Regions from separate parts of the Homo sapiens genome. Here all the other regions are linked to region 1. Evidence: fine-mapped QTL for protein levels in blood plasma. Region 1 holds a variant in brackets. A gene starts in each other region. All regions are shown on their forward strands.

Evidence for each region. PIP is the chance, under the fine-mapping model, that this variant and not a neighbour inherited with it causes the effect. The UK Biobank Pharma Proteomics Project read protein levels with antibody pairs (Olink). The fine-mapping took linkage between variants from a reference panel, not from the people measured, so its PIPs are less certain.
Region 2: it holds the start of CRELD2, and the variant in region 1 is fine-mapped to the plasma level of the CRELD2 protein (UK Biobank, PIP above 0.99).
Region 3: it holds the start of GALNT3, and the variant in region 1 is fine-mapped to the plasma level of the GALNT3 protein (UK Biobank, PIP above 0.99).

The regions. Positions count from the first base shown.
Region 1 is chr7:7,237,502-7,243,499 of GRCh38, forward strand. C1GALT1 (core 1 synthase, glycoprotein-N-acetylgalactosamine 3-beta-galactosyltransferase 1) reads left to right here. Exons shown (of 4, transcript NM_020156.5): 3 at 754-1,421. Among named protein-coding and RNA genes, the nearest start is that of LINC03016, 15 kb to the right of the region's middle. The variant T/A (reference allele first, on the strand shown) is at 1,315.
Region 2 is chr22:49,913,167-49,921,452 of GRCh38, forward strand. It overlaps CRELD2 (CRELD disulfide isomerase 2), which reads left to right and starts at 5,468. Exons shown (of 10, transcript NM_024324.5): 1 at 5,468-5,732; 2 at 6,064-6,146; 3 at 6,564-6,674; 4 at 6,990-7,081. The coding sequence starts at 5,604. ALG12 (ALG12 alpha-1,6-mannosyltransferase) reads right to left here and starts at 5,272. Exons shown (of 10, transcript NM_024105.4): 1 at 5,097-5,272; 2 at 438-677; 3 at 219-351. The coding sequence starts at 599. RefSeq lists silencers at 4,862-5,061, 5,172-5,671.
Region 3 is chr2:165,789,391-165,797,676 of GRCh38, forward strand. It overlaps GALNT3 (polypeptide N-acetylgalactosaminyltransferase 3), which reads right to left and starts at 4,857. Exons shown (of 11, transcript NM_004482.4): 1 at 4,625-4,857. LOC124906086 reads left to right here and starts at 4,196. Exons shown (of 6, transcript XM_047446887.1): 1 at 4,196-4,402; 2 at 4,529-4,947; 3 at 5,410-5,689. The coding sequence starts at 4,196. RefSeq lists enhancers at 3,607-4,513, 4,514-5,419 and silencers at 4,490-4,579, 4,650-4,799.

The sequences.
Region 1 (5,998 bases):
TCTGGTATAAGCTCCTTATTTCTTTGCAAACCTGTAGTTTAAAGAGCACTGCTCTAGACCATCTTGGAATTCCCATGTCTACCATTGTTCTCTTCTGTTTTTGATTGGTGGATTTACATTTTGGAATGAGGTATGTGACTATCAGAAAGTAATCTCAACTCCTGTGCTTTGACCTTTTACCACCTCAGGGTACTTGTAGAAATTCTTAATAGTGGATTATTGTGAACTTCAAAAATGAACTGCCACTTCAGCAGCATGTCTTTCCTGCTCTTCAGAAACTCGTTCAGAGCAGTGAGAAATTTCTGTCAGTAATCTATTAAAAACTGGCTGCTTTCTTTTATGAAGTGCCAAGCAGAGACTATTTAAGGCAGCATTTAGCATGCCTATGAAGCACCAGGAGAACTTATTAAAATGCTGATTCTGAGTCAGTAGGTCTGGGCCTAAGATTATGCATTTCTAACAGGCTCCCAGGTGATGCTGCTGCTTTTAATCAGTAAACTACAGTTTGAGACGAATTTAGATTATAATGTCAACTCTTACTAGCTCCAGTGATGTCCTAGATAACACTGACATGAAACCAATAAATCAGAGTGTCAGTTCACATTAGGATGAGTTTGCTTTCCTTTGGCTAAATCACTAATAGAGGGATAAATAGGGACTTTGAAATTAGGACAGTGCTTTCTTCAGTATAATTTATTAATATTTGGATTTTACATCTATGTAAATAACCTTTTAAAATGTTTTGTTTAATAGATGAGAACACAGACATTGCTGAAAACCTCTATCAGAAAGTTAGAATTCTTTGCTGGGTTATGACCGGCCCTCAAAACCTAGAGAAAAAGGCCAAACACGTCAAAGCTACTTGGGCCCAGCGTTGTAACAAAGTGTTGTTTATGAGTTCAGAAGAAAATAAAGACTTCCCTGCTGTGGGACTGAAAACCAAAGAAGGCAGAGATCAACTATACTGGAAAACAATTAAAGCTTTTCAGTATGTTCATGAACATTATTTAGAAGATGCTGATTGGTTTTTGAAAGCAGATGATGACACGTATGTCATACTAGACAATTTGAGGTGGCTTCTTTCAAAATACGACCCTGAAGAACCCATTTACTTTGGGAGAAGATTTAAGCCTTATGTAAAGCAGGGCTACATGAGTGGAGGAGCAGGATATGTACTAAGCAAAGAAGCCTTGAAAAGATTTGTTGATGCATTTAAAACAGACAAGTGTACACATAGTTCCTCCATTGAAGACTTAGCACTGGGGAGATGCATGGAAATTATGAATGTAGAAGCAGGAGATTCCAGAGATACCA[T/A]TGGAAAAGAAACTTTTCATCCCTTTGTGCCAGAACACCATTTAATTAAAGGTTATCTACCTAGAACGTTTTGGTACTGGAATTACAACTATTATCCTCCTGTAGAGGTAAGTTTAGAAATTTTATTACTATGTCAATACTTGGACTGACTGAATTTTGTTGATAAAAACATGTTAATATGTGTATGTTTCTTTAGTACCAACAACAAGGACTCTTCCTTAGTCTTTTTAAATAGAGTGGCAGTATAACAAAATAGATGAGAACAGGGACATCAGCAATCAGCAGTAGTCACTTAGCAAATAGCTATTGATGCTGTTATATGCCAGGCACTGAGAATGTAGAAGTAAATCACAGCCAATTTCCAGTTCTCGTGAACCTTACATTCTGGATGAGGAGATATACAGTAAACAGGCAGACTTGTAAATATAAAATAGGATTTTAGTAGTAAGTGCCCTGAAGAAAAATAAGCCAAGTAAGGGGATGGAGAGTGACCCAGAGTGGGATGGAGTCCTCTGGTTTGGGTGATTAAGAAGGCCTCTCAAAGAGGTGACTTTTGAGCAGAACCCTGAGTGTTATTAGAGAGCAAGTTGGGTGAAGATCTGGGTAAAGAGCCTTCTAGTCATCAGGAGGATTTAATGGAGGTTCAGAAAGACCTAGAGTCAAATCCTGCTCTCTCACTTAATAGCCGAACAACCTTGGATGGACAGGAGCCTTGGATGACATCTGAGCTTCAGTTTCCTCATTTGTAAGATGGACATAATGTACCTGTCTTATTTAGTTGTTGTAATTACAACATAGTACAGCCCTTCACACAGTAAGCATTTAATAAGCCTTGGCTCACATTCCTGAGAATTTTATCTAAAGTGCATTATTTTAGGAAGTATTCCAGTAGTACAAATATTTCAGAATATACATTGTACTTATCCCCTGTCTTTACCAAATATTAATCTTTTTGCCACATTTGTTTCAGTTATTTAAAGAAGAAAATGCTATAGTATTGTTTTTCAGATTTTTAAATAAATATCTTTCTACAACTTGCCCTTTTCACACAACATTGAGATTTATCAATGTTAATTACATGTCTGCTGTGTTCACTATTATAAGCATTGCTTCAGTGAATAACTGAATGAGACCAGGAATCATGGAACCTAGCTTTTAGGCTCAGTTCTGTTACTAATAATGCCTTTAGGCAAGTCACTAGTTCTCTATGCCTTCTTTTCTGTGGACCTAACGTATAAATAATACACTTCATGCTACTACTGTCATCTTCATAAGGCAATGCTTTCAAATCATCATCTGGAACAGTGATTCTCAACCCAGGGCAATTTTGCCCCCAGAGGACATTTGGCAAGGTCTGGAGACATTTTTGGTTGTTACAGCTAGGAGGCTGCTACTGGCATCTAATGGGTAGAAACCCACTACATTATAAACCTACTAAATGCTAAACATCCTAAAATGCACAGGACAGCCTCCTACAACAAAGAATTACTCTAGCCCAAAATGTCAGTAGTACCATGGTTCAGAGACCCTGGCCTAGAACATCTGACCCAAGCTTTAGGTAATCAGCTTTAAAAGGAAACTTTTGATAGTCTGTTTTTCTATTTTAGTGAGAGTACTACTTTGGATGCTTTTTTGATGTAAACTTTTCTTAATATATTTTGACCATTCCAAGATGACTTGATCTTTTTTCCTTAATTCTGTATCCTTTTCCCATATAAAAAATTTACCCAAATTCAAGAATATAAACATGTAGCAAATACATCCAAATGCATATAAGATCTTACTAAGAGTATCTGATGTTGGATACACATACAGTAGTAGCAAAGGGACATCATAATTGGCAAATTTGTTCTTTCTCTAGAAATTTATCAAATTATGTTGAAGACCATAAAACAGAATTAGAATTCAGAGTACCAAAATTGACCCATCAATCTGACATTGCCTGTTCTCCCTCAGGAGATTCTTACATAAACCCAACGTGAAACTAAAATTCTATTATTATCCATCTATCATTTAGTAAGTTTTCTTCCCCCTAAATGAGTTTAAATCTTATACATACTTTTTTTTTCTATATACTAATTACTGAAAATACAGAAAATTTTTATCTAGCAAGTCAGGGTAAAAGATATTCTAATTCATGAAAGAGTTACATTCCTAAATTTCTTGTTCAGAACTGACTCTTAAGCAGTTCCCTTCCCACTCCACCTTCTTAGTAATAGACTTTTCACCAGAGAAGTTGCAGTGAGTCTTAATATGGTAGATTTAAAATATATGTGTAATTGTTTACATATATATCTCTCTACATGAAAAATTGACTTTTCTGTAGGTCAGAAATGGTCAAATATGATCTACTTTATTCAGTTTTATTTACATTATTCTATCTGAAACATATTAGTACATAAGTGAGGTAGAGAGCTCCTGATTTTTTTAAATTGTTAACTAATTATTCTACTACCATTTTTTAACTCATTACTGATTTAAAATGTCCCCCTTATCATACACTGTAACCTTACTTATAGTAGGATCTAAATCTGGGATTTCATTTCTATGCCATTGTTCTCATTTGATTTTGGCCCAGCACCATATTGTTTTGAACCTTGTAGCTTTACAGCAGTTTTAAGTTACTATTCTAAGGGCAAATTAACTCTTCTTTTTTTCTAAGTGTTTTGGCAACTCATTTCTTTATCTTTGCATACAAACTCATTAATTTAGGGACAATAACATCTTTGCCCAGGATTTTTTGTAAGTCACCTTTTAGGTCCTTTGGTCAAGTTTTATAAACTATTTCCATAGGTATGCAATATTTTTGTTACTGTTCTACTTGGGCTTTTAAAGACTTAACTTTTTACTGATATATATGAAAACTTATTTGTTTGATTTTCTTTTTAAGCATCTTTAAAATCTGGCTTTGTAACTGAATTCTCTATTTCTGATGATTCTTCACTTGAGATTCTTGAGTTTTTTTGGGTAACCATAATTGTCTGCTAGCTCTTGTTTTCTAATAATTATAGCTTTTTACTTTTATTGTCTTTTATTGCATAAATGCTTAACAGAATCCTGGCCATCCAGTAAAATATAAATAAATAAGAGCAATATAATTAATGCAGTAAATCTTATCAAAAATATTATTTTACAGAATATAAAAATTGCTTCCAGAGGTCAGCAATTTATAACTATTACTGGTCTAGTCCTTAAGTTTAATATGCACTGGACAGTATAGTAGCCACTAAGTATGTGTGGTTATTGAGCACTTGAAATGTGGCTAGTCCAAATTGAGATATGCTGTAAATAAAATACACACCTAATTTCAAGAAAGGTTTCATTAATCATCGCAAAACTATTGCATGTTAAAACAGTATGATGAACTTTTTCAGTTAAATAAAATGAAATTTCACTTTTTTTTTTTTTTTTTTACATTTTTTATGTGGCTACTATATGGCTTACATATCTGTTGGACAGAGCTAGTTTAGATAATCACAAGTTGACTTATCTGGTTATTTTTCCTATTTGCTTTTATTCTGATATTTCCTAAAGGTGCAAGAGTAGGTTGTCTAAGAATCTACATATCCAGTGTGTGTTTCAAAGGAAAGTTTAGAGATAACAGCAGAGAAAACGCAGTGGACAGTTTGATAATTTTTACACACTGTAAGCTACATACTTCCAAACATAAATTATTAGATTTATTAAATATTCAGTCAATATGAATCTTCTCTTGGAACTTGCCAGACTATCTCCCTCATTCTTTACAAAGATGTCAGATGGAGCCTGAAGTTTTGTTGGAGTCACCTGGATGACACCAACATTCTCCAGATACCAATTCTGACTCTAGGTTGACTGCTTAATTCATCTCTTTTTCTGTCTTCTTAATTTTCTTGCTTTCTTGTTCGTTGTATTGTTGTTGTTTTATTTTAAACTTTGTTCTCATACCAACCCTATTAGGAATTTATGAGAATTACATAACTGGACAAAGGTTTAAATCTGACCTACCTTAGGGCCACCTGATATGATTTTTCAGTCAATAATAGCTAACATTTATTGGGCATTTATTTTAAGCAAAGGGTAATTTACACACATTGTCTCCTTTAAATAACCACCTTTTACAAATGTGGAAATTAAAGCTTATAGAGATTAAATAACTTACTCAAGGTCGTATACTAGCCCACAAAATTTGGGTTCAAACCCAAGTCTAGGTTGAGAGCTTTGTCTCAAATACTGTACTGTTTGGGTTGATACATATATAGATGAAGTGTATTGGGTTGTAGACACCTAATGGGCAAGGCTTTGTAGTCATTGAATGCCCTAGAGGTATGTTTCCGAGTATGAGCCACACAAAAAATTACAGTGAGAAAATGAGGAAGAGAAAGCAGATGTTGGAGAAGGAGATTTCTCCTTGTATAGCTGCTCCTTTGATTTGAAGAAATCTCAGTAATTTTATCCGCTAAAGAGTGTGAGAGAATATTGTTTCATTTAAAAATACTTTCCACAGTTTCACTTGGTTTCACCAATTTCAATTGGTTTTAAATCATTAGGATGTCTAAGTAAACTATTGATTTCTTCCACAGGTCTAGTACATTAGGTTCCTCTGCTTTACCTTGCCATCTTTAATGTTTGTATTCTTTTAAAATTAGCTGGTCCTTTATAAGTATGTAAATATTGTAGCTAGCAATGTGCTGTTTATTAACAA
Region 2 (8,286 bases), not on the chromosome of region 1:
CCTAATTTCACAGTCAAGAGTGTGGAGGCACAGAGGGGCTGACTCAGACGTCTTAGGCCTGACCTGAGCACCTGCTCTGAGCCGCCATGCCACGGTGATCGAGGGCAGGCAAGACTAACAGACAGCGTTCCTGGGCAGGAGGGACCGCGGCCTCGCTGAGGTCACCCGATGACACCACAGTCCCTCACTCCCTCCTCCTTTGTTGAAGACCCCCTTACCTATTAGCTGAGAGTAAAACTTGGACATTTCTAACAGCGAAAGCACGTAAACCGCGGGGCTGGAGAACACTGCGATCACCACTGGCCCGAGGAACGTCCTGGGGACGACTCCGGGGAACTCAAGATGGTCGTACTGCGAGGAGAAGGGCAGGTCAGTGCACCGGGGCCCTGCCAGCTGGTAACATGAGGTTTTCCCCAAAGACAGCAGGGGCCCCTCACCTGCTCCAGGTCTTGCCAGTGGTAGAGCAGGTCATGTGTGGCCTGCAGGTTGAAGCTCTCCTCCACTTTGGTGTAGGGACAGATGACCAGGTGGACAGTGGCTACGGCCACCAGCAGCCCCAGCAGCAGGGGCCGCCTGCCTGATGACCCCTTTCCAGCCATTCCAGGCTTTCAGCTTCACGTACCTTCACAGGCCAACAGTGCGAGACACCAGCCGTTAGCACTGCCACTCCACGCATGCTGGAAAAGTGGAAACAGATTCCTGAGGTTCGAAAGTCACGCTTGCGCTCACGTTTGGGAGATCCGGGTAAAGGGTTAGCAGAATTCTCTGAACTACTGTCTTAGTCGCACTACTACAAATCTGAAAACGCATCAAGATGGAAAGTTTGGAGAAAAAATCACACTTGAGAATCTTTCATACTGTAACCAGTGATCTGACACTTCCAGCTCTGTGAATGTTTTTCTAGGCAGAAGGATCTCAGTCGCAGAACCCTGAGTCTGACCAGGCCTGGGCCACGAGGGCAATGGAGGGTGGTAAATGGCCCCTGCCCCCCAGTCTAAATCTGGCAGGAGAGTCAGCAAAACCCAGGCTTGGCCCCGAGGGAACCGGCTGAAGAAGACGGAATGGGAGGCTGAGGGGTGCCAGTTAGCTGGGTGGGAGGCACCAAGCTGGAGAGTGGTGGACAGGGGCCCCGGGAGGGCAAGAAACTGAACGTAGTACAGCTGCTGGGACACAGGGCTCGAGTGGCCAGCAAAGCCCCCGCTCCCAGGAATGGTGGGATGGGGCTGTGGACGCCTGCGCCGAACCCCACCCTGGGGGCTGGGAGAAGCCATGGCCGGCTTTCCCAAAGGTGGCACCACACTGGCCATGAGCCTGCATGTGAGCCTGGGAAGACTGGCAATGGGTCCCCCAAACACTAACAGGACAACCTCAGGGGCCCGTGGCACGGAGCTTCCTGAGAGGCCAGCAACATGTCCAGCTGCTACACGTGAGAGACCAAGGGAGGGGAGGGGGCAAACTCTTCACGTTTCTGGCTTCTTTTAAAACAGATTTGATTTTATTCAATCCAAACCAGAAGGGCCAGAAGCAAAGGGAGAGAGAACCCCAGGGCTTACCATTTATTAAAACTACTTTAAAAATTTTTTTTAAGAGACAGCGTCTTACTCTGTCACCCAAGCTGGAGTGCAGTGGAGTGATCATGGCTCACTGCAGCCTCAAACTCCTGGGATCCTTTTGCCTGAGCCTCCTGAGTAGCCGCAGCTACAGGTGTGGGTCACCACACTCAGCTAAGTTTTCTTATTTTTTGTAAAGACAGGGTCTTGCTTTGTAGCCCAGGCTGGTATGGAATTCCTGGCTTCAAGCCATCTTCCTACCTTGGCCTCCTGAAGTATTGGGATTACAGGCGTGGGCCACCATGCCCAGCCAAAACTATCTTTTGATCAAACGGAGAGTTAAGAAGTATACAAAGATGGCAACCAAAGGAAAATCTGTAGATTAGAAGGAAGGAGAACCCTATTTGATATGGTGGGCAGGGGGTGGAGAGAAAGAAAAAAGAAAGCTTTAATAATTTTACGACTGAAATGGTATGCAGTTCTCTCCTTTGCCAAATATAAAAACCTGGGGCCGGGCGCGGTCGCTCATTCCCGTAATCCCAGCTCTTTGGGAGGCTGAGGGCCAGGTGCGGTGGCTCATTCCCATAATCCCAGCTCTTCGGGAGGCTGAGGTGGGTGGATCACGAGGTCAGCAGATCAAGACCATCCTGGCCAACATGGTGAAACCCTGTCTCTACTAAAAATACAAAAATTAGCTGGGCATGGTAGTGCACGCCTATAATCCCAGCTACTCGGGAGGCTAAGGCAGGAGAATCGCTTGAGCCCAGGAGGCAGAGGCCGCAGTGAGCCGAGATCACACCACTGAAATCCAGTCTGGGCCACAGAGCGTGACTCCGTCTCAGAAATAAATAAATAGATAATAAAAAAATTTAAAAAAATAAACTTGGTATCAAACAAAGAGAAAGGTCGAAGGACTAGGTTAGGAATCACTAACTGAGGGAGGGCCCACTCAGCTGTCTCCCACTTGCTAAGACACAAGCTTTTTGACGGTGGGGGGTTTTTGATGCTGGATGATTTTTCCCACCAGCGCAGCCTCAGCACCAAGGACAGAGGCCAGCCGCTGTGGCCTGAAGGCTGCCTCGCTGCCACCTCCCCTGCTGGACTCATCCTGCGGGCAGGGCTTGCTTGGTGGACTCACTGCTGAATCAGCAAAGCCTGCCGCACAGTAGGCACTCAACAAGGCTGCCGAAGAAGAAATCGGTAAAAACTCCTACATGGGGTTCTCATCACACCAGCTCACGTGCTTATTAAAAATTCCAGCAGCCGGGAGCGGTGGCTCATTCCTGTAATCCCAGCACTTTGGGAGGCTGAGGCGGGTGGATCACAAGGTCAAGAGATCGAGACCAGCTTGGCCAACATGGTAAAACCCCGTCTCTACTAAAAATACAAAAAAATTAGCTGGAGTGGTGGCGAGTAGTCCCAGCTACTTGGGAGGCTGAGGCAGGAGAATGGTGTGAACCCAGGAGGTGGAGCTTGCAGTGAGCCGAGATCGCGCCACTGCACTCCTGCCTGGGCGACAGAGCAAGACTCCATCTCAAAAATAAATAAATAAATTAATTAAATTAAATAAAAATATGTTCCAACGGCCGGGCGTGGTGGCTCATGCCTGTAATCCCAGCACTTTGGGAGGCTGAGGTGGGTGGATCACAAGGTCAGGAATTCAAGACCAGCCTAGCCAGCATGGTGAAACCTCATCTCTACTAAAAATACAAAAATTAGCTGGGCATGGTGGTGTGCGCCTGTAATCCCAACTACTTGGAAGGCAGAGGAGGAGAATTGCTTGAACTCGGGAGGCAGAGGTTGCAGCAAGCCAAGATCGCACCACTGTACTCCAGCCTGGACAACAGAGCCAGACTCCGTCTCAAAAAAAAAGAAATAGGAAGCAAGCCGGATGTGTTGGCTCACGCCTGTAATTCCAGCTACTCAGGAGTTCAAGACCAACCTGGGCTACAGAGCCAGACCCCATCTCCACAAAAATAATCCCAGCTACTCAGGAAGCTGACATGGGGGGTACTGCTTGAGGCCCGGAGTTCAAGACCAACTTGGGCTACATCATGAGACCCCATTTCTACAAAAATAAAAAATAAAACGGAACGGGGAGCATCTACGTGCCAAGATGTGGGAGGTGCACACAGCAAGTGCTGCTTGGCAGTCCCCCACAACCCCACTCCACACCTCTCCACCCAGGGGAGTTCCCCAGCAAGGAAGAGTTCAGCTGTGGGGTGAAAACATTACGTGCTGACTCTGACACTCCTGGCGGGCCCCCAGCACCTCCTCGGACCCAACAAGGTGTGCCTTCTGCTGATGACCAGCACAGCTCACTTTCGAGGGCATGAGAAGACCAAGGGTGAGTCTGGATTCTCTGCCAGGAGCACGGGAAGACCAAGTCAACACCAGCAAGCACGAAAACCACGACGAACCCCCCACCAGGCGAGGGTGAACGGACACTGTCCTGCACTAGCCCACTCTGCTGGGCAGCTGGGCAGCAGCTGTGGCTAATCTAAGTGACGGGTGCTTCGAGAGCACCCACAGGTTAAAACGGGCCCAGGCCATGACACTTTAAAATGGTGGTTTACAGAACAATGGCATCTCAGATTAGGGAATGACCTGCAAAGACCCTCTTGTCCCCATCAATCCAGATTTTAAGGCCTCTACCGAAATTGATCAAATCAGGCTAAGCATGGTGGCTCACGCCTGTAACCCTAGCACTTTGGGAGGCTGAGGCAGGCAGATCGCTTGAGGTCAGGACTTCGAGACCAGCCTGGCCAACATGGTGAAACCCCGTCTCTACTAAAAATACAAAAATTAGCCGGACCTGGTGGTGGGTGCCTGTAATCCCAACTTAGGAGGCTGAGGCAGCAGAATCACAGGAACCTGGAAGGCGGAGCTTGCAGTGAGCTGAGATCGCGCCACTGCACTCCAGCCTGGGCGACAAAGTGAGACTCCGTCTCAAAAAAACAGAAAAGAAACTGGTCAAATCAGATGTTACTTTTTTTTTTTTTAAATGTGCAGTGTTATCTGCACTCCTTCCTTCCACAGGCAGGAGTTCTCTGAAATCCAGACGCTGCACGTTTTATTTCCCCTAATTTAAACCAGGGGTTCCTGAACATGAGCGAGTGTTCATCACCTCAAGCGCCTGTAGAAATGCAGATCCCCAGCCCCCAGAGACCCTAAGTGGACCCCAGATCCCCAGCCCCCAGGTGAAAAACCCATCCCCCAGGTGGGAGGTCCGGCCCCAGGTGAGGAGCCCGGCCCCAGGTGAGAGGTCCAGCCCCAGGTGAGAGGTCGGGCCCCCGGATGAGAGGTCCGGCCCCCGGGTGAGAGGTCTGGCCCCCAGGTGACAGGTCCAGCCCCAGGTGAGGAGCCCGGCCCCAAGTGAGGGGTGCAGCCCCAGGTAAGGAGCACGGGGCTGTGACGCGTGGACATGCGCGGTGAGGCCTCAGGAATCCAGCGCCAGCGCCAGCTCGGGTCGCGCCCTCGCCCGCCTCCTCCCTGGTCTCGCCGCGCGCCCGCCTGAAGGCCCCGGTCGCGGCAGCGCGCACTGACCTCCGCAGCTCCCGGCGGCGTCCTTCGAAGCGCGGCTGCCTGGGCCAGCCTCGGCAGGAAGCAGGACGGCGGAAACAGAACAGAGCCCGAATCTAAAGTCCTTGCCCAAATCTAAAGTGGCTACCGCAGCCCCGGCCGCTACGGCCGCAGAGACCCTCTGTGCCCTGAGTAAAGATGGCCGCCGCGGGCTGCGCGCGAGGGGCGGGGAGCGGGAGGCGGGGTCGGACCTGCACGCCCCGCCCCCGGACTCCTGGCGGCCGCTGATCCGGGGCCTTCCCATTGGTCACCTCTCGTGGCGAACTCGGATTGGGCCATATCAGGCCGGGGCGGGTCCCATCAACCAATAGCGGCGCGGGGCTGGCGGGTGGGGCGGGGCCTCGCCGGCGCCGTCAAGTAGCCTGGGGGACAGGCCGGCGCGGCTGGGAGCGGGTGGGCGGCCGGGAGGCCGGAGCAGCACGGCCGCAGGACCTGGAGCTCCGGCTGCGTCTTCCCGCAGCGCTACCCGCCATGCGCCTGCCGCGCCGGGCCGCGCTGGGGCTCCTGCCGCTTCTGCTGCTGCTGCCGCCCGCGCCGGAGGCCGCCAAGAAGCCGACGCCCTGCCACCGGTGCCGGGGGCTGGTGGACAAGTTTAACCAGGTGGGAAGGGGCCGGGCGGGGTCGTCAACCTTGGGCCCGGGGTCCCCCTCACCCTGCATCCGGGGTCGCCCCACCTTGGGCCCAGGGTCGCCCTCACCCTGGATCCGGGGTCCCCCTCACCCTGGATTCGGGATCCCCCTCACCGTCGATCCAGAGTCCCTCCACCGTGGTCCTGGAGTCCCCCTCACCCTTGACCCGGATCCACCCCCACCGTGGAACCAGGGTCGACGCCACCGTGGGCCTGGAGTCCCCTCACCCTCGACCTGGGCTCGCCCCCACCCTGGACCCGGGTCAGGTGGTACCAAGCACTATGGGCACTGTCTCCTCGCAGGGGATGGTGGACACCGCAAAGAAGAACTTTGGCGGCGGGAACACGGCTTGGGAGGAAAAGACGCTGTCCAAGTACGAGTCCAGGTGGGTGCCCTGGAGCACCCCTGTGGGTCTTGGCCTGGCGCTGTCCTGGGAAGTCGTGTCCTGCCTTTGGTGCCTGTGTTAATGACAGGGAGACAGAACAGCCCCCGAGGCACCAGTCACCCGTCCGAGTCACCTCGGCTTCTCCCTGAGGACTAATGGCTGGCCCCTCTCTGGCCTTCCAGCTTCTGCTCTGGTCCCTACCCCCTCAACAGACAGTGGCTTTTCAAAATGTAAACTGGAACACCAGCCCCACTTGTGGGAACCGCTCCTGGCTTCCCCTGACAGTGGGGTCCCCTTATTCTCTGTGCCCGGAGTCCTGGCTCCCCGGCCCCTGCACCCAGGTTGGCGTATTGGTTCGGATTTTTCTTCACTGCCTTGGAGGCGCTGACGGTGGGCCGGTGTGGGCCTGTGTTTCAGCGAGATTCGCCTGCTGGAGATCCTGGAGGGGCTGTGCGAGAGCAGCGACTTCGAATGCAATCAGATGCTAGAGGCGCAGGAGGAGCACCTGGAGGCCTGGTGGCTGCAGCTGTGAGTGCCTTAAAACCTCTTAGAAGATACTTTTTATTTTCCAACTTAGAATTTGAAATAACCTCAGACTTAGAAAGGTACAGGAACAGTAGGGAGCTCCCACCTGCCTCGCACCCACCTTACCCCTGCATTACCGTTTTTTATCACCAGAGTCAGCGATCAAAACCAGGAAATTAAGGAGAAGATTCTGTCCACACCTAGACTCTTGTTTCCTGGACCTTACAATACTCCAGAGCATATGTTACGTTCAGCTGCATGTTTGTTTTAAAGAACCGTGTCTGCTGGGATTCAGTGAATGTTTTCCTCCATCCTCAGGAAGAGCGAATATCCTGACTTATTCGAGTGGTTTTGTGTGAAGACACTGAAAGTGTGCTGCTCTCCAGGAACCTACGGTCCCGACTGTCTCGGTGCGTTTCTCCTCAGGGAAATCCCATCTCCTACGTCACTTCCCCTCTTCTTCTCATGATTCTTGGGAGGTAAAAGCACAGAGGGGACCTGGGGTGCATCAGCTTTCTGTAGGGTCTGGGACCCTGCCGGATGGCTGCCTCCCCCATCCCCAACACAGCTTGGAGCACTTCGCACCGTCTGGCTGCAGCCTCACCACTAACCTCATGCTTTAGCGTAAAACTCTGAGTATGTCTTCCCAGCTGTGCTGTTAATTCAGGGGTTCACAGACTCAGGTTGTTCACAGCTGAGTCCACTCACCTGAGAGTCTGTCCTGACTGACCTGTCCAGGTGCTTCTCCCTGTGTGCACAGAGGTGACCACACCACAACTTCTGTGGCTGCTATTGCAGAGAGCGCAGGGCACTGGGTGTCTATCAGGCTGGGCACATGGCCTTGAGCCCCAATGGGTGCCAAGGGACAGGGCTCTTCTGTGAAGAAGTGTGCATTGAAACTGAAGTCACGGTTTACTGTTTATAAAAGCCAATCTCGTGGTCAAGCGAGATCAGGTAGCAGAAGTTTCAGGTTCAGACCCCCCACCCGCCCACCATCAGCCTTCTGCCAGCCCCTGCTGCTGTCCCTGGCATGCACTGGAGGCCGCAGCTAATGTTCCCACTCTCCCTGCAGTCCCCGCGCCTGACGCGTCAGTGTCCCTATCACCATGTTTCAGCTGAGGCTGCCCAAAGCCACACAAAGTGCAGTCATGTGTAACGACCAGGCGTGTTCTGAGAAATGCGTCATTAGGCGACTTTGTCATGGTGCAAACATCACAGCGTGCACTCCACACGCCACACGCCACACGCCTAGATGGTGCAGCCGCTCTGCACCTAGGCTGCCTGGCAGGCCCTGCTGCTCCCAGGCCGCACACCTGCACGGCTCGTGAGGGTCCTGAGTACTGTGGGCCATTTGGCACGTGGTAAGAATGTGTCACCTGAACACATCTAAACATAGAACAGGTAATGAGGCACATTGTGATGTCACTAGGCAATAAGAGCCGCTCAGCTTTAGTATCATCTTAGGGGACAGCTGTGCTATGCAGGGTCCCTTGTTGACCTAAACGTCATCATGCAGCACGTGGCCATAGTGAAGCCCAGGAGCCTGTGGCTTGCTCCACTCAGGCGATCCACCGCCAGCCCTGCAGACCCAGGAAATCAGTTTCCCCAAACACCC
Region 3 (8,286 bases), not on the chromosome of region 1:
AGACCCTACTCCTAATACCAATACATTGGATTTGATTTCAACATATGAATTTTGGAAAAACACAAACATTCAGACCATAGCAGTTGTAGAGGCTAAGAAAAAGAGTTTAAAATTACCTCTGGATTTCTGGTATGGCACCTGGATGGTAGTACACATTTATGATTCACTCTCCCAAATCTCTGCAGCAAAATATATTTCAAAATTCAGGATTTGACAGCCTGTAGTCTCAGCTACTTGGAAGGCTGACATGGAAGGATCACTTGAGTCCAGGAGTTCAAGATCAGCCTGGGCAACATAGTGAGACCTTGTCTCATAAAAAAAAAAAAAAATCTGATTTTTTTGGATGTTAGAAAGGTGATATGGTTTACATAATCAATGTAAAAGTGTACCCCAGCAGGGCCTGGGCAGTATTATGTAATCAAACAGCACTATTTCTGCAGCTGGACATAATCCACTAAGTTGAATACACAATCACAATAGCCTCCTGACAGTTCACTCAGGCTTTGCTCCAACTGAGTTCAAGTTTTGCTAACAAATGAGTTAAATTTTGTTTTGCTTTGTTTTCAGAGGATGATTTTTGAATTATAGATAAGAAATGGTACAATGTACTACTATCTATAAATAGAATACAGAGAGTGAGCAGGTTGTTTGTTCATTTGTTTTTTGATGAGATGAAGGTTCTGGTTTGAACATATATAATCTCCAGTGATGAACAAATGTTAAAGATGTCCAATAGGCAATCATATAGAAAAGAAAATTAGTTTGGACAGTTTGAAACTGAAACAATTATAGGGAAAAGGTGTACTTGGGGGAATATTCTCTCTTTAGTGCCAAAAATAAGAGCCCAACTCTGAGAATGACCCAAGGAAGTGTCATATAATTGTCAGTAGTCTCTAATGACCTAGAATTCAGAGTCCTACTTGTCTTTGCTTTGCAATAAGTGAATGTACTTTTGTCTCTTGCCACTGCTGGAATTGATTTGAATTCAGTTTTCCCCCTTAGTGTACATGAGTTGTGTTAAATTTCACCCAAATTACATAGTATGAATTATTTTGATACTAACTAAATGCATAATTGAACAGCTAACTGAAAACACCTTCCTTTTCAATAGGATTTTATATCTATAAAGTATCTATCATTCCAAATGTATTTTTGCACTTGATGGACTAAAGAACTGAATACATGTGAAGATGATTCAGGCACTGATCATTTCTAAAATCCTAAATATGATAATATTTTCCTTAGGAGAAATATTTCACCCACCAAGAATGTAAAGGCAGGTTAAAATTGAAAGTGTCTACGGAAGGCTTAATTATCCAATCAGAGCTTCCAAGACTACATTCCTACAAATCATTGAGGGATCTATTTTAATCTCTCAATGTAGTCTTTTTGTGGAGAGGGGGAGTGTAATTCCTACAATTTGTCTCATACTTGTTTCATAGTAAAAAAGAAAAGCATTAAATATTAACAGAATATAAACCAAATAATAAACTGGCTATGTTTTCTCTAATAAATTTTCAGACTCCACCCAGAACTCTAACTCAGTCATAAAACTTTAAGAGTTCAGAATAGAGCTGGACAGAAGGTTTCTCCCTCAAAATTTCACTGAATTCTTATCATCAAAATCCCCTCAGAAAAAAATATTTCTAGTTTTTCCTGTTCCCAAATACACTACAGCATGATGAGAACCCATTTAACACAAAATATGTATAATGAACAAGGTTTCATGTAGTTCTTAATATTTGAAAGATTTAATCTAGCACCAAGGTCCTGGAGCCTCAAGCCCTACAATACATGTTTAATTAGGATTACAGTAAAGTTTTTAAGAAATAATTTATTTTCTTTCATGTGAGTGGGTGTGTGCCTGTGTGTGTGTGTGTGTGTGTGTGTATACGCATGTATGAGACAGAGAAAAAGAAAGCTGGTAGAAAAATCAGCCTTTAAAAGAACAAAAATTCAACAGAATAGTGCTATTTTCACATTGAGGGCTCCAGCACTTTCGTGGTCATAAAGCAGTCTAATTGTTTAGACCAACGTTTTTAAAAATAAAATAATAAAGAACATACATGTTGTAAGGTTAAGCACTGTTTTATATTAATAAAACTTGTTTCATTTATATACACTCACATTGGAGTTTACAGAGTTGAGGCAGAGAATAAATTAGTTATTGAGGATTGCAGTAAAAGGAAAAAAAAGTTTAAAGAAACTTAGTGTTAAGGAAGTGTGCTTGAAATAAAAAATCTGGAGTGTTGCAAATGGATGAAAGGCACTGGGTAGCTGCCTCATAAAATATATTTTAAGCCAATATAATAAAAAGATCAGAAGACTAAATAATGTTATCCACATTGACTTAAAAAATTAACTGTGGCTTGGAAATACCAAGAAGGAACTAAAAGTCTCAACTGACATGGCATCATCAATATGCATGCTATTCCACAATGAGAGGAGCATGATGCCTTCACTGGGTAGTTTCCACGAAGTCAGGCAATATTTGGACAAGTAGAAATGAGGGTAAATCAGAGTGAAGAAAGAGCAATGGACAATTCTGTAATTACAAAGGCCTTACAAATTATATGAAAGAAAAAAGATAAACATCTTATGGTAAGTGAGGATGTGGGTGGTGAAAAGTAAGATACAGGAGTCATGAGTCAAGCCACTGGAATGATCATGCCATCTCTGAGTGAAATGAAGTTAGAATACCTCTCTTGGCTTCAATTTTTCATAAATGGATGGTTTGAGTATTGAATCTCCAAAGTGAGAAAGGGATCTCGAGAATGCTAGGGCTGGAAGATACTCCTGATTGTTTTTAAGGTTTTGTTATCTTAATCTAGGAAAGTATTATTTTTCCTATTTAACAGATAGATTAAGTTACACTGTTACTCTAGCTAATGAAAACATGTTACATTTCTCACTAGAGGTTAAGAGGAAAGACAGTCTGGTAACATCTGCCTAGTAAGTAATGAAGACTAATATTCAAAATTCAGGGAACAACTCCTATATCTCATATTTAAACAGTATTTAGCACATTTGTTTCTCTGTATGGAGACAAGATTAAGAGGTCAGGTGAGATCCTTTTAAGAAATGTAGAAAAGTGGTGATTGAATTAATAATTACATCATGTTATGCTGTGGTTGGCTTTTAGATTTCCATCTAATCTTAAAAAGAAGAAGAAAAATAACCCCACTACATGTTGCATCAGGCATTTTAAGTAAAACGTGCAATTTAAAAAATATTTTTAAAATGTGTGGAGATAGAACAAAACAATGGAATTGTTATTATTATCAGAAACTTCTACGTAAAAATGTTGGTTAAAGCAATATATAAAGATTGATTCTCGGTACAAATTGCTTGGAAAGTTTAACATGTGCACTAGATTTCAGATATTAAAAGTTAAATTAAAAAAAAGAATCTAATGGCAGCGTGTGACTTTAACCTCATGGATTTTAGCCACAAACGCAAAGAAAAATATATACAATAAAAGAAGCAACAGATTTTCCCACAAGCAGAGATTTTCTAATTAAAATGCTGTCACTTTAATATTTTTTAGCTATAGAATTTGACTGTAAATGTCTTCATTATGTAGTGTAACTTCTATAGCAAGTTATGTTAACGTTTTCAAGAATCGGAAATATTGGTAACTCGATGGGGTTCTTAAAACAGAAATAGTTTCTTTGATGAGTTGGAAAGAGAAGGAAATAAAAGTCTAAGGTAAGCGCCAGTTTCACCCTCAATTCTTAGGCTTCAGAAAAGCCTAATTAGGCAGGGAAAGGAATCTGGGCCTGGCACACCCAAGCTTAGACGTGGCAGGATCCTGAAACAATGTTTTTTTGAACCTTTGAGTCATATGCCACAGGCAAACCATAGCCGCGATATGCAGGTCCTTAAGTCAACAGGTCCTCTAACGAGATGGTGAGTGGTTGGTGCGTGGCAGTTGGATTTCTTCCCGCCACGGAAGAAAAGAACTCTTCTCCATTGATCAGGAAAGTGGGCCCAACTCTGGCCTGGAGAGCGCACCCGGAAAAGTGCAGAGTCGAAACAGAGAGAGAGGGGTGTCCGCGTCCCGGCCACAGAGCCCTTTCCAAACCACTCGGAAACCATTTAAATGGCTCGGCGGCCGCGGTTTGCAGCCTAGAACTGTTTGGGGTCCCCGGCTAGGAAAGTTGCCTGGCAAAGCCATGTCTTTCGCTGTCGCGGGATGTCCTCTCGGGCAGAGAGGCTGGAGGAGACAGGCAACCTGCTAGCCGGAGTGGAAGCGCGCCCGCCTCCCGCCGGGCCCTCCCTCTCAGGGTCCCCACGCTGCGACCCTCCCAAGGGCAAGTCCGGGGCCACCAGGTCTTTGGTCTCCGTCCAGCTCCTCAGGGGCCGCCCCATAGGGACTGGCGGGGGCACCGTGGGCGAGAGGGTGTGACCGGGCTCCCCCCCGAGGCGCCACCTGCCCCTTGGCCCAGGGCGCCCCTTTCGGGATCTCTCCAGGGGCAACCGACACACTGCTCTCGAGACCGTCTCCAACCGGCCACCTGGACCGTAGCCCTGTCCCCAACACGTGAACCCCTGCGGCCGTCCTCCCGCCTGCTCTAACGCAGCCCAGGGGTACCGCGTCTCCCTCCGCCTGCCGCCGGCTTACCTGGCGGGTGGGCAGGGCAGGGTGGCGGGAAGCGGCGGCCGGGCAGGCGCTGGACGTGGGCTAGGCGCCAGGTGCAGGTGGCGGCGGCTGCGACTCCGGTTGCTGTCGCCACAGTTGCGGCTCAGTAGAGCTCCTCCTCCGCCGCCGCCTCCTGCCTTCCCGCTGGGCCTCCCGCGTTGCCTGGAGAGGCAGAACCGAGGCTCGGCTTCCACTTGGAGTCTCCCAGGTGAGCTCCAGCCTGCGACGTCGGCAGGGGCGAGGCCCCACTTCCGCGCCTGCGCGCCAGCCTCCCGCCCCGCCCCAGCCCTACCTGAGCGCTCCAGGTGAGAACCTTGGATCGCGCGCGCAGGGTGGGGGCGCCGTCCGGGCCAAGCCTGGCTGTCGCGCGGCTTCTCTCTGAGTGGTCGGCGAGGCTGCTGCTCCGCGCAAGTTGTGGCTCCCGGCCCATCTACATTGGAGGAATCCTGCACTGACCTGGTGGCAGTGATCACCTTGTAGCCAGAACACAGTCTGCTGGGTCCTTGGGGAACCAGAAGTTCTAGATTTCCCCCACACGGTTCCTCCCTTCCTCCTCGGTTCGCCAAAATGAAGGGGTGCGCTGCCTCCGAGGACCACTTCGGGAGGGCAGCAACTGCTGGCTCATGTGGTTTCTTCGGGCAGGGTTCAGCAGCTTCTGTCACCAGTTAGGTTTCGTGAGCTTCCTTCCCGTGTAGTCTTGATTTCATCACTTGACTCACTTCAGCGCAGCTAGTGGTTTCCGTTTCTGTACGCGGGCGCTCTGGTAGGGGCGCCTCACGTCCAAAGGAGGAGTCTTCTTCCAAAGAAGAGCCTTTGGTATTTGGCAGAGCCTCGCCAATTTGGGGCGCACCTCCCCTTCCTGGGATGCTCTCAGAAGGCAAACCAATTCCCAGAAGAGAGGGAAAAACAGCCACAACAGAGAGAACCTTTGCTGTCCCTGTTTGGAAAGAGATTGGGATTTCCTGGAGAGGGCTTGCTTCTACTGCAGGTTTGTTTAAAAGCTCAACATCTATTCTGGAAGAGAACAACGCAGACTCCAGGAAGATGGTGGGTTTTGCTGTTTTTAAGACAAAAAAAAATTGTTAAACAGTATTTGTTCCATTTATGACACAACTTTCTGTTTCAGCCTTCCTTCTGCTGCTGCAACAAACATTGACACACCCAAAACCAGGACTTAAAATGGCCTTTATACCTTTCTATGAACTCATTTCTTTGGCCCTATCCCAAAGATATCTAGGGATATAAATAGAAAACTAGCTAAAAACTTTTTGGTGTCGTGTTTAATCACATGGTGGTAGGTTTTACTATGAAGTTTAGTTGTGGCCTTCCTCCTACATTTTGACATGCTCTTATGGTGCTTATTCACTGTTTTATTAGTGCTATGCGTGACCTAAAAATAAGGTTTAAAATACAGTTTAGTATAGTATCAACAAGTGTATCTTTAGTATTTGACTACTCTAAGACATTGGTTTTAGCATCCATAGTGCTATTTTATACTAGGACATCTATGAGTTAGGGTTTAAGACTTTAGTAAACTAGGTAGTTCTTTGCTTGTTTTACATGTCATGGTTATTTTGCGAGCACCAAGGAACCTCCATGTATTTGCAACATTTTAATATCAGTACCTACAAGCAATTGCCAAGCTCCCTTTCCCTCCAAAAACAAACAAACAAAAAAATAGTTCAGGAGATACTTGTGTGTATTGATATACTAACTTGGCAGTGTTTTTCCTTAGGTCCAGGTCCAGAACTGAAAATACTAACTACTGAAATTCTCTTCTCCTTCTCCTTCTTCTTCGTTGTGCCACTTTGTCGTTTACCCCTAACCAGAGGTTAATGTTAGTCTTTGGAAAATTTGTAAGGTATCCTAAATGTATAACCAAGAAACCTGTACCCTTTTGCACGCACCACCCATCTCTGAATGAAGAGCCAAAGATTGTCAGAGTTTTGATGTCCCACCAGGCGAAGAGCAACACTTTTCACTGACAATCAGGACAGAGCAGATGGATATAGAATAACAATCTGGAATCCAAGGACTGAGATGCATTGACAGCAAGACTAGTAACGTCAAATAACAACTGAAAAGAGAAGCTAGGGTAGACCTATTAAAAGAGAGAGCCAGCAAACAGGACCAAAATGCTGGATGAGGAGTCTAAAAAGAACAGAAGAAACAAAAAAGATCAGGAGTTACTAAAATTTGACTGTCAGTTTTACAATGGAGACAGACAATTTAAAGAAGGAAGCAGTTTTTCTGAGTGTGGCATTACTTGTGCACGTTGAGTGTCATATATATAGAGAGAGAGAAAGAGAGAGAGTGAGAGAGAGTGAGAGAGAGAGAGAGAGAGATATCTTGGGGATGAGACCTGTCTAAACACAAAATTCATTTATGTTTCATATACACCTTATACACATAGCCTTAAGGTAATTTTATAAAACATTGTAAATAATTTTATGCATGAAACAAAGTTTGTGTAAAGTACTTATGTGTGGAATTTTCAACTTGTGGTGTCATGTTGGTGCTCAAAAAGTTTTGAATTTTGGAACATTTCAGATTTTGGATCTGTGGATTAGGGATGCTCCACCTGTACTATTTTACACAACGTTGCTTGTACTATTTCAAAGCATTCTGAAAGCAAAGTCTTAATATTAATAAAAAATTTTCTATGTGACAATAAAATTAAAATGCTGCAGGCCCAAGAAAAAAATATTATCATATTGAAATATTTAATGCCCCAAATCTAATCAGATGCAGGTTTTTGAAAGTACCATCCTATTCAAAATTATGAAATAAAGAATTTGTTTCATAAAGAGAAATTAGCATTTCATCATAAATAAAATCCAGGAACCTTAGTGTAGACATGCTTCAGAAATAAGCTAATTTTAATAGTATATGTTTGACATATAATGACAGTTAAGATAGAAAACTGGGCAGATTTTACACAGGAAGGAAACAAACATTCTCTCTCTCTCTCTCTCACACACACACACGTACTTATTACACACACACACACACACACACACACACACACACGACTAGCCACAAAATGCTCATTTGCATGGATTTGAAACAATACTCACTCCTTAATACTTTCTGTTAACATTTAAATTAATGCCAAGACCAGCACCTGGCACTTAGTAGGTACTTAATAAATATGTGTTAAATGAATAAATTGACCCATCAAGTACCATAAAAAAAATGCCTAGTGTCTTGAGCAATTTACAGGTCTAAAGAATGGTTTTACCCAACAGTAATGACAAATAATCCAAGGCAGATAAGAACACTAGACTGGTAATCTGAATTGCAAAGTTCTAAGAACAATAGCTACCAGCTTTCACATACCTACATTTCAAAAGACACTACGCAAAACAACTTACACTCCTACAAATTACTTTACATCTGGCTTAAATATTCTCTTCCACAAAACAAAATAGTGGTACAAGATGATCTACAGGCTTCTTTACATTCTGATTCATATAAACTCTATGCCAAGAGAATTGGGCAAATAAATAAATAAATAAATGAAACCTTCTGGATATAGCAATAATAATTAATGGGACAGCAAAGATGAAGAAACTGAAATTATTTAGCTGAGATCGAAATTTTAATTCATAAAAAATAGTTGTAATATATAATGTAACAAGTAA